3 linked regions of the Homo sapiens genome follow. The protein of the gene in region 1 interacts with the protein of each later gene in a pairwise test. Each region holds a gene or a part of one and is shown on either strand. Other genes may lie near its edges.

The links.
Region 2: the proteins of TMCC2 (region 1) and DIP2A interact in a two-hybrid assay, tested with the Homo sapiens proteins (one large-scale study listed by BioGRID).
Region 3: the proteins of TMCC2 (region 1) and SMO interact in a two-hybrid assay, tested with the Homo sapiens proteins (one large-scale study listed by BioGRID and IntAct).

Annotation. Positions count from the first base shown.
Region 1 is NC_000001.11:205,241,303-205,244,953, reverse strand, and holds part of TMCC2 (transmembrane and coiled-coil domains protein 2), read right to left. Parts: intron 3,450-3,651; coding exon 2,910-3,449; intron 1-2,909.
Region 2 is NC_000021.9:46,531,768-46,535,418, reverse strand, and holds part of DIP2A (disco-interacting protein 2 homolog A), read right to left. Parts: intron 3,293-3,651; coding exon 3,182-3,292; intron 1,896-3,181; coding exon 1,772-1,895; intron 1,416-1,771; coding exon 1,306-1,415; intron 835-1,305; coding exon 732-834; intron 1-731. UniProt on the Homo sapiens protein: Catalyzes the de novo synthesis of acetyl-CoA in vitro. Promotes acetylation of CTTN, possibly by providing the acetyl donor, ensuring correct dendritic spine morphology and synaptic transmission.
Region 3 is NC_000007.14:129,198,506-129,202,156, forward strand, and holds part of SMO (protein smoothened precursor), read left to right. Parts: intron 1-3,651. UniProt on the Homo sapiens protein: G protein-coupled receptor which associates with the patched protein (PTCH) to transduce hedgehog protein signaling. Binding of sonic hedgehog (SHH) to its receptor patched prevents inhibition of smoothened (SMO) by patched.

The sequences.
Region 1 (3,651 bases):
TGACCTTTGTCTTCCCTATCCCACCCCCCAAATTGTAAACTCCAATGCCCTCTCCTGTCTCTCTCACTCCTCTTTATTCTTAATGTACCTGCTCCCTCATTCCCTCAGTACCCCCATCTCCTTTTCTCCACATTCATCAGCCTTCTCCTATCCCCACCTCCTTCTCTGCTAGCCGAGGTTTCAAGGTCCAACCTTTTGAGCATTCTCTGACCCAAACAAACCCCCAACTCCTTTGTCACCCTTACATGCCCTCCCAGCAACCCCCAACCCTGGATTAGCCTGATAATCGTTCAGCTCTGTTCCTACCCTCTGGCTAGGACCACTAGAGAGAAAACAAATCGCAACCACTAGGGTGCTGCCAGCACAAATTACCAGCCTCTACAACACCAGACAGGTCACCCGTGAGTTCCTGCTCAGAGCCTTGCTCTGCCCCAAGCCAAAGCTTTACTGCCCTCCTCAAGCCAGCCCTTCCCACCTCCCCTCCTGCTCTCAATAAACACTTGCACCTTTGGTTTCTTCCCCCATAGAAAATAAAAACAAAGTAAGAATTCATTTCTGCCTCCCAGAGGTGACTCTTTGTGACCAAGGACGATGCTGACTTCTGGATCTCACACCCTTTCACCTACTCACTGACCTCACCCCAGTGAGAATTCCCCTTCCTCACTGCTATCTTCGATCTCTGCCTAATAGGGACCTCTCCAGCCAGCATGGAGGTGGGCTCAGGTGCTTCCCAACTTAAAAAAACCAACAAAACCAGACTGCCTCCACCTGATACCCTCCTTCTTCCCAGCCAAGCTACACACCTGCCTTCACTTCCACCCTCTCCTTAATCCACAGAAACTGGCTTCAGGCCATGGTTCCCAATGACAGCCACTGCTTGCTACTGCCTGTGCACATTTCCAAACCCAGATGTGACCTGCCCCTTCTATGCATTTCACTCTGATTACTTCCTCCTCCTTCAAGCTCATTTTCCTTTTGCTTTGCTGCAAGTTTACTTCTATCCATCTGACTGCTCTCTCTCGGGCTCCTGGTGCTTGGCCTGTCACTTACATGTCAGCTGGGTCTGTCCACAGCCTCCTTCTCATTCGACACATCCTCCTTTGAAGATCACACCCACACCCATGATTTCAACCTCAGCGCCAGCTCCCAGAGCACTGGCCCTGGCCCAGGCCCCTACCCCACAGACCCAATTGCCAGCTGGTCCTCCCTAGCTGGACAGCTCCCAAAGGCACTTGCAACTCAACAGGTCCAAAACTGAACTCATCACCTTCCCCCCAAAACATGCTCCTTCTCCTGTGATTCCTCAACTAGAGAATTCCCCCATTTTTAAAGCCACTAAGCCCATAACCTTAGAATCATCCTCTACGCCTCCCTTTCCTTTGCCTCCTATTCACTTTCTCACCTACTACTTCTGACTTTCACTTCCAAATGTTTTCTGCACTTGGCGCCTTCTTTCCATCCCCACTGCTGCAGCCTAGACTACTGCACTAGCTCCAAAGTCTCCTTGACTCCCGTCCTGCACTCCCTTCCCAATCTACTGATTTTTTTTGTTGGTTTTTTCTTTTTTTTTGAGACGAAGTCTCGCTCTGTCTCCCAGGCTGGAGTGCAGTGGCTCGATCTTGGCTCACTACAACCTCCGCCTCCCAGGTTCAAGCAATTCTCCTGCCTCAGCCTCCTGAGGAGCTGGGATTACAGTCGCCCACCACCATGCCTGGCTAATTTTTGTACTTTTAGTAGGGACGGGGTTTCACCATGTAGGCCAGAGTGATCTTGAACTCCTGCCCTCAAGTGATCCACCCACCTCGGCCTCCCAGAGTTCTGGGATTACAGGTGTGAGCCATGTGCCTGGCCCCAATCTACTCTTTATATTGAGACCTAGAGGAACCTCGTCCTGCCAGTTTCCTGCCTAGCACCCTTTGATAGCTTCACACTACTCCCAGAATCAACATGGCAAGGCCTTTTGTGATGTGGCCTCTGCCTACCTGTCAATCCCCAAAAGTGCTAGATGCTCTGGCCATAATGAACCCCCAGTAGCCCCTAGCACCAGCTTGTGTGCTTTTGTACATACTATGCCCTCTCTTCCCCCTTCCCCTCTCCCAGTTCTTCCCTGGCTAAATTATTCAAGATTCAGCTCAATGGTTTCCTCAAACAGGTCTTTGCCAGCTCCTCGCTCTCTCCTCAAGTCCCCTCTCCCTTGAAGCTCCCACAGCAGCTCCCATCTCTCTGTCCATTCACCCACTTGTACCCCCTCTAGAGTGAGCTCCACAAGGACAGCAACACTGGCTTGTTCATTCTTGTAGCACAACATAAGAATTCAATAGATACTTGTTACACGAATAAAAGAACGAATATATAAATTCATGAAGTGCTAAACTAGCTTTTCTCCTTCCCAAATCACCCTTCATGGATCCCCTATCTTCTTTGGTTGGTGCCAATAGTAAAGATGATACTATGCCAGGCTCTATTCCAAGTATTTTACATATATTAACTCATTTAGTCCTACAACTGTACTATTATTATCCTCATTTTCAATTGGTGAAACAAGCACAAAGAGGTTAACTGAGTAAGTGGCAGAACCAGAGTTGCTTCCAGTCTGTGCTTTAAACTACTATACCTATTGCCTCTTGATAGCCCATTTAAGGAAAACAAGTCAACATTAATATCAGCATGAGCAAAACACAATTTTGAAAAACAGCCCTAAGGAAACAAAAATTAGCCATCCTGGGAATCATCTCTTGTTTTTGGCCTAGTCATACCCGACTCCTTTAACCAAGGTAGATAACTCTGCAGACGGTGGGGTGTCAGTATCTGCCAGGGAGGGCCCCTGGCTCAGCTCCCCAGGTCTCAAGGCCCCTCAGCGGATGGCCCTTGCCTCTGAGTCTCCCCCTGCCCCAGAAGGCCCATCTCACCTTGTCCCCGATGCCTTCGGCCTCCTCAGCCAGGAGGTACACGTTGCTGCCGTCGGCCAGCAGCAGAGCAGTGTCGGTGGTGGAGGAAGAGCGGGGACGGCACTGGTGCTGGTGCAGGATGGCGGCCAGGCTGCTGTCCTGGGGGGCCTTGCGCAGCAGGTGAGGGCTGCCACGCTGGGGCTCCAGGGAGCTACTCTTGGTGCGCCGGCTGCTGCTCCCGCTGCTGCCGCCCCCACTGCTGCTGTGCAGGCTGGCGCCCCGCTTGATGGAGGGCCGGGAGCGGATCTGCTGCAGCACGCGGTTGAAGGCGGTGGGCCGGGCGGGCAGGTCGTGCAGGGACATGGCGTAGGAGACGCGATGCATCTCCGGAGAGCGCTCCTTCTCATCTGGGGAGTCATGGTCGGACATACCCTGCTGCTGCTGATGCTGCTGGGAATCCTGAGACGTCTGGTGCTCCCTTTCCCGAGACCGACGGCGGCTGTGGAACAGGTGCTTCAGACCGTGGCCAAACATGGAGCCCTCTGACAGCTGCTGGATTTTCTTAAGGGGGAGAGATGAAGAACCCTGGTGAGTGGAAAGCTCTTGATTGCCTAGTCAGTAGGAGGGTGAAGGTGAAGGGTCTGTCCTTGGTAGACTGGCATAGCTAATGCAGCCATCTGAACCTGGAAGATCTCTGTGGATGGCCCGTCGTGCATAAAGGGTCAGTTTGCGAAAAGGTGGCAACCCAGACCCATCCTTTCAT
Region 2 (3,651 bases), on another chromosome or scaffold:
TATTTAGACATACCATTCAATTTCACTCAGTAGTTTTGTTCAATTCTAGTATTACAATGTAAGAAAACTACTGAGTCCATTTTTACAGTTTTTAAAATTGTCACAGTGTACCCCATAAATATATACAATTAGTACTTATCAATTAAATAATATTAATTTAAAGATATCTCAAGTTAAGTATCTGACATTTGAAGTAAATCAGGTGCTGACTATACTTTATCAACAGATCATCTATAACCATAAAGATTCTACTTATATATTTATATCCATGACAGCTGAGGTCAAAACTACAGTCATAGATAAAGTAATAGAAAACTAAAAGTGTTTTCCTCTTTTTGAATGAAAAATGCCCTGACCCTCAGTATGTCACAGAGTAAGCCAGCCCCCCAGGGCAGGCCTGTGAACCCAGCACTGTGTATAAATCAATCAGTGGGATATAGGTTCCATGTTCCATAAAATCAACATCCATGTGCATTTACTGAAAACAACCCTGATGGGGTTGTCTGGACTCTGCTAAGAGACACCGTGTGCCCTCTTGGCCAGCACAACCACAGAGACCCTGTAAGCATGCTAAAGACAGTGCATCTCCCTACCTGGCATGACCCGGATTAATGGGCAAAGGCACTACCCAGGGGTGGTTTTGACAGGTGCAGTGACAGTCACATGATTAGGTACGTCAGGTATCTGTGTGAGGCTGGAGGGGCCACCGCCCCACCCCCGAGAGCCCTTACCTTCTGAGTACCCGCACGCCTGGGTCAGAGCCCGGCACTGTGCCAGCAGGGATGCGTGGGACACTGTGACCCCCACCGTACTGCCTTCTTTGCTGGTTTTATACTGAAAGATTTCAAGGAAAAAAACATGATGTGGTATTTCTAGAGGTGACAACAGACAGAATGGAAACTGGTAGAATCTTCAAAAGAAGAAGTGGTCAGTGTCTCTCCTCTAACCATCGGCCTCTAACCAGCAGCCCAGGTACATGGCAAAACCCTGGCCGCTGAGGGGATGCTTCAGTGGAAGTTGTGGCTCCTCTTGGGCAGGTGCCCGAGGGTAATGGTGCGCCATGGGCTCCCTCATAACTGTCTGCATCCCCAGGGAGCCAGTTAGGAGAGAATTAGATGAGAGAGAAACCTGGAAGGATCTGAGCAAGGATTTATATGACACTCTGTATTTCCAGGGCAGAGATAAAACAAGAACTCTTAGGCCGAAACTTAACAAAAAAGAATAGCAACTTACATTCTTATGAAAAGCAAGACTTAAGCCTGTGGGACATGTTTTTACATTCTCTAAGTTAGGAACAGTCATTACCTCAATGTAGGCAGTCCCAGTCCCTGTGTCCTGGGCCAGAGGGTGCCAGTCCTTTGGGGGCTTGGCTAGATGCTTCCCATCAATCACTAGCCAGGAGAGCGGGGGCCAACCTGTGACACACAGACAGGACACAGAACAGCAAGCAGTCAGAGGCATCTGCTCCCCACACTCGAAGCCTGCGCCTCCAACATGCAGCACTAGCTACTGAGCGAATAAGGAGTGCAAGTTTTAGTCTCATTTCATTTTATATAATTTAAAAAGGTACATCCGGCCAGTGGCTACCACATTAGACAGTACAGGTCGAGACATGAAGCCAGATGAAAACCGAGATTCACCAAGGACTCGAACAAGGGATCACTTTTGCTGAAGACCCAGACACCTCTGTCATGTTTAATTTCTGGAACACCATGCATTTAACACAGACCACAGTCAGAACACTGACTCCCCTTCCCTTGGGAGGCCTCACCTTTGAAAGCTGCCACCTCTCCTGTCTGTGCCTTGGGGAGGCCTTTCTGACAAGCGTCTGTGGTCAGGGCCAAGAAGACTCCACAGCTGCCCAGCAGAAACCCAACCTGCTGGCTGCCTGCATCCTGCAGAAAGCAGAGTGACCGTGTGGGGTGGGGTGCTCACAGCAGCCACAGCCCCAGACCCTTGGTGCTCCAGGCCATGCACAGAGAACAGATCTTTTTTTCATCCCTCATAAAACTTCCAGAATAATTCAGTCCCATTATTGATATATATGATCTTTTCACGGAAATAGTTCATGAAAATGTGACAACTATGTTTAAATTTAAAAGATAATTTTGGTTTGTATTTGTGTTGAAATATAAAGTTTAATGGGCTAATTTCTCAAAGTTTATTCTTACAAATGACATTTAGAAGCATTTTTAATAAACTCCAAAGTTAATGGCATTGAAATTTCTATTGAATCATGTTTGAAATTTACAAATTAATCTAGAGAGGCCTGGTCACCAACGATATTAAATTATTTCCACACAGAAACACATTTCCTTGTAGCCAAGTCTTCTGTGTCCCTCAGCAGTATTCTGTCATTTTCTTCATATAAATTTGACAAATCTCTAGTTTTACTCCTAAGAACCACTGCATTCAAATACCTGCCCATCACATATTATGCTTTGAGATACACTAGTTTGATTTGCAAATTTTACTTTTGGGATTCTTGAATATTTCTGGATAATGCTCCTGTTAACAACTGCCTGAATTCTGGGACAGGATGACAGAAAACTGATTTTCTCAAATTCATGCCTTGTCTATTTTTTTTCAGTAATCATATTATTGATAGTTATATCAAAAATGTTACAGATACCTAGATCAGCAAGACCCCACATTAATAATTTATCAGCAACAGAAACTGCCTACGGTCATATAAGTGAACAGAAATGCAAGATAATTTCCATCTCGTTTATTCAAAACTGCCACTGAGAAGTGAGCTATATCACTGTAATGATATATTTATCCCTAAGAAATAATAATTATTTTCTATAAACATATGGTTTTGAGGAAAAGTTGAACAAAATCTTATTGAATCATAATTCTATTCATTAGAGGAAAAAATGGCTATCATTTCTGTTGGGAAATTCATGTAGATGATAGAACAGCTCCACCTAATAAGAGTGTGGTGTGGGAGCATCACCAGCAAAACGGTTCTCAGTGCCCCTCTCATTAACAAGAAGAGAGGCAGGCAAAACGGCATCTGATTTCTCTTGAGTCCTGGCCAGCCTGTTGACTACTAGCTTTCTCTCCTCTGTCAAAACAGCTGCTTGCTGCCTGCCCACATGAGTGAAAAGGAAGTAAGATACTGCTGGTATCAAGTTCAGAAGCGAACCACACGGGACCTGAGCCATGGGTTTGCTACCTTTCTTGTTAATGGCACTTCTATGGGGACAGGAACCAGCTCTGCCAGGAGACACCCATAAAATGCAACCATGAACATCACAGGGTCACTATTCGGAAACACGAGCGCCACCTACAACAGGACAAAGAAATGAATATTCCAAATTTCCAATTTTTACAATATCTAGTTAAATTAAAAGCTAGTTATAAATAAAATTTTTGTAAGCCCCAAATATTGTAATAATTGTGCTTGAAACCATAAGGGACAAGTCCAAATAGTATTTAACTGAGTAGAGACAGTTGACTCAGGGCCTTTGAGAACACGCAACAATGAATAACCAATAAGTGCTGACTTTGTAAGACAAAATTTAAGCTGTATCTATATTCTGTACTTGAGGTCTGGAAATTTAGTTTCTAACAAGTTTGTTTGTTGAAAAGGGCAAGGTTCTCCTTCAAAATTTGGTTTTAACAGTGGTTGCCCAGAATGTAACC
Region 3 (3,651 bases), on another chromosome or scaffold:
CATGACAACATTGGACATCATTCCATTTCAATGCACATCCTGTCATGCACCCCAGAAGGAGATTTTGGTTAACAATGGACCACATGTGATGGTGTTCCCTTAAGATTATAATACCACATTTTTACTGTAGCCTTTCAATGTTTAGATATGTTTAGATACACTGATACTCACCGTTGTGTTACAGTTGCCTGCAGTATTCAGTATAGCAACATGCTGTACAGGTTTGCAGCCTAGAAGCCATAGGTTATACTGTATCAGCTAGGTGTGCAGTAGGCTATACCATCCAGGTTTGTGTAAGTACACTCTGATGTTCACACAAAGATGACATTGCCTGATGACACATTTCACAGAAGATATCCTCATTGTTAAGCAACATGTGACTATATCTCAACCCTGAATAGTGTTCTATTATAATGGTGTACATTATTTTACTTGGTTGGTCTCCTATTGATGGATATGGATTCAAGCTGTTTCTACTTTTTTGCTATTGCAAAACAGTGCTGCAATGAATAATCTATATTATCTTTGTGAACATGTGAAGTAGAAGTACTAGTATAAAATTTTGGTAGATAATGCCAAAGTGATCTCCACAAGTGTTTACTAATTTTTATTCCTACCAACAAATATAAAAGTGCCAGTTTATCCCTACACTCTTTATAGTACGGTATTTTCTTTTCTTTTTTTTTTTTTTTTTGAGATAGAGTTTTGTTCTGTCACCCAGACTGGAGTGCAATGGCGATCTCGGCTCACTGCAACATCCGCCTCCTGGATTCAAGCAATTCTCCTGCCTCAGCCTCCCAAGAAGCTGGGATTACAGGCGCCCACCACCACACCTAGCTAATGTTTGTAGTTTTTTAGTAGAGACGGGTTTTCACCATGTTGGCCAGGCTTGTGTAGAACTCCTGACCTCAGGTGGTCCACCTGCCTCGGCCTCCCAAACTGTTGGGATTACAGGCGTGAGCCACCACCATGCTCAGCCTTCTTTATGTTTTTAAAGGCCATTAAATGGCCTTGAGTCCAGGAGTTCAAGACCAGCCTGAGCAACATGGTGAAACCTTGTCTCTACAGAAAAATACAAAAATTCACCAGGTGTGGTGGTGTGAGCCTGTAGTCTTTGCTACTCAGGAGGTTGAGGTGGGAGGATTAACTGAACCTGGGGAGCTGAAGGCTGCAGTGAGCCGTGATTATGCCACTGTACTCCAGCCTGGGCAACAGTGTGAGACCCTATCTCAAAAAATAAAAAAATAAAAAAAACATAAAGAGATGTTCGACCTCACTCTTAATAATACAAATGTGGAATAAACTACAACGAAATATTCTTTTTTTAAACTTTTATACTTTTTATCACAGTGATAAAGATCAAAACATTTGAAAATGTGATCTGTTATTTGTCTTTCGCCTGTGTGTCTATAGAATTATGCAATTTTTACTGATTTGGAGGAGCTTTGTGCATATAAGGAAATTAGCTCTTGTGATAAGTATTGAAAATACATTTTTTCAGTATCTTACTTTTCTTATGATTTTTGTATCGATTTTTCTGAAGTCTTTTGTTTAAATCTTTTATTTCATGATGTGTAGGCTTTGTGTCATTTCAGAAGGCCTTCTCCACTCCAAGGTTTAAAAAATCATTTCCTGGCCAGGCGTGGTGGCTCACGCCGTAATCCCACTTTGGGAGACCGAGGCGGGTGGATCACGAGGTCAGGAGATCGAGACCATCCTGGCTAACACGGTGAACCCCCGTCTCTACTAAAAATACAAAAAAAAAATTAGCCGGGTGTGGTGGCGGGCGCCTGTAATCCCAGCTACTCGGGAGGCTGAGGCAGGAGAATGGCGTGAACCCAGGAGGCGGAGCTCGCAGTGAGCCGAGATCACATTACTGCACTCCAGCCTGGGCGACAGAGCAAGACTCCATCTCAAAAAAAAAAATCATTTCCCATCTTTTCTTCTAAAACTTTAATTTTTAGAAAAACAATGTAGTTATTTTTTTATCCATCTGGACTTTTATGTAAGAAATGGGGTAAAGCTCCACCTTATTTTTTCCCCAGATAATTTCTTAGTTGTCCTTGAAGATGTATTTAATAATCTCTCTTTTTCCTGGGGAGTTTTATTTTTAAGGTATGAAACAATATTCACAATGAGGGAAAAAAAGGAAAACAAATTAGACATTTTTAAAACCTGATTGTTACCACAGATATAAAAAGATTGAGAAAAATTACAGTTTTTTTTTTGTTGTTGTTTGTTTGTTTGTTTTAATGAGTCTTGCTGTATCACCCAGGCTGGAGTACACTGTCGTGATCTTGACTCACTGCAACCTCCACCTCCTGTGTTCAAGCAATTCTTCTGCCTCAGCCTCCCAAGTAGCTGGGACTACAGGCGTGGACCACCACGCCTGGTTAATTTTTATATTTTTTAGTAGAGACAGGGTTTCACCATGTTGGCCAGGCTGGTCTCAAACTCCCGACCTCAAGTGATCTGCCTGCCTCAGCCTCTCAAAGTGCTGGGATTACAGGCATGAGCTACCGCACCTGGCTGACACAACCTTTATTTTTTTTATTTTTCGAGACGGGGCCTTGCTCTGTCGCCTAGGCTGGAGTGCAGTGGTGCCATCTCCGCTTACTGCAACCTCTGCCTCCTGGGTTCAAGTGATTCTCCTGCCTCAGCCTCCTGAGTAGCTGGGATTACAGGCATGTGCCACCACATCCAGCTAATTTTTGTATTTTTAGTAGAGACAGGGTTTCACCATGTTGGCCAGGCTGGTCTCGGACTCCTGACCTTGTGATCCACCCGCCTCGGCCTCCCAAGTTCTGGGATTACAGGTTTGAGCCACCATGCCCAGCCGACACAACCTTTTTATTAACTGCCTGATGTTTCTCTAAAGCATTTTACTCCAGAGAGGTCCCCCCATTTTAAATATATTGTGCAATAAAAGTAAACATCCAGTAAAATTGACTTTTTCTTGTACAGTTCTAAGTTTAGACAAACACATAGACTTATGTAACCAGCCACCACATTGAATTCAAGATAGAGAATCGTCCTTTAACCCCCATATATTCTCTCATGCTACTATTTTGTAGGCAAATCCTGCCCTCACCCCAATCCCTGGCACCCACTGCTCTGTTTTCTGCAAGTACCTATGTACTCAGAATTTCTGGTGACTGTTTTTGGGTTTTTTGTTTTTTATTTTTTTGTTTTTGAGGCAGAGTCTCATTCTTTTGCCCAGGCTGGAGTGCAGTGGCGCCATCTCAGCCCACCGCAACCTCCACCTCCTAGGTTCAAGCAATTCTGTTGCCTCAGCCTCCCGAGTAGCTGGGATTACAGGCATGTACCACCACGACCGGCTAATTTTTGTATTTTTAGTAGAGACGGGGTTTCACCTTGTTGGCCAGGCTGGTCTTGAACTCCTAGCCTCAGGTGATCTGCCCGCCTTTGCCTCCCAAAGTGCTGGGATTACAGGTGTGAGCCACTGCGCCTGGCCAACTGGTGACTGAATTGAGTCAAGTGGGAACTGTTGCCTGAGGACATTGCTTCTTAACTGGCAGGAACTTGCTCTGCACCCTGGAATATACTCTGAAGGCTGGGAGCAGTCAGAGGCCTCAGACAAATAATCATAAGAGTTAACATTTCCTGAGCGCTTACTACATGACAGGTACT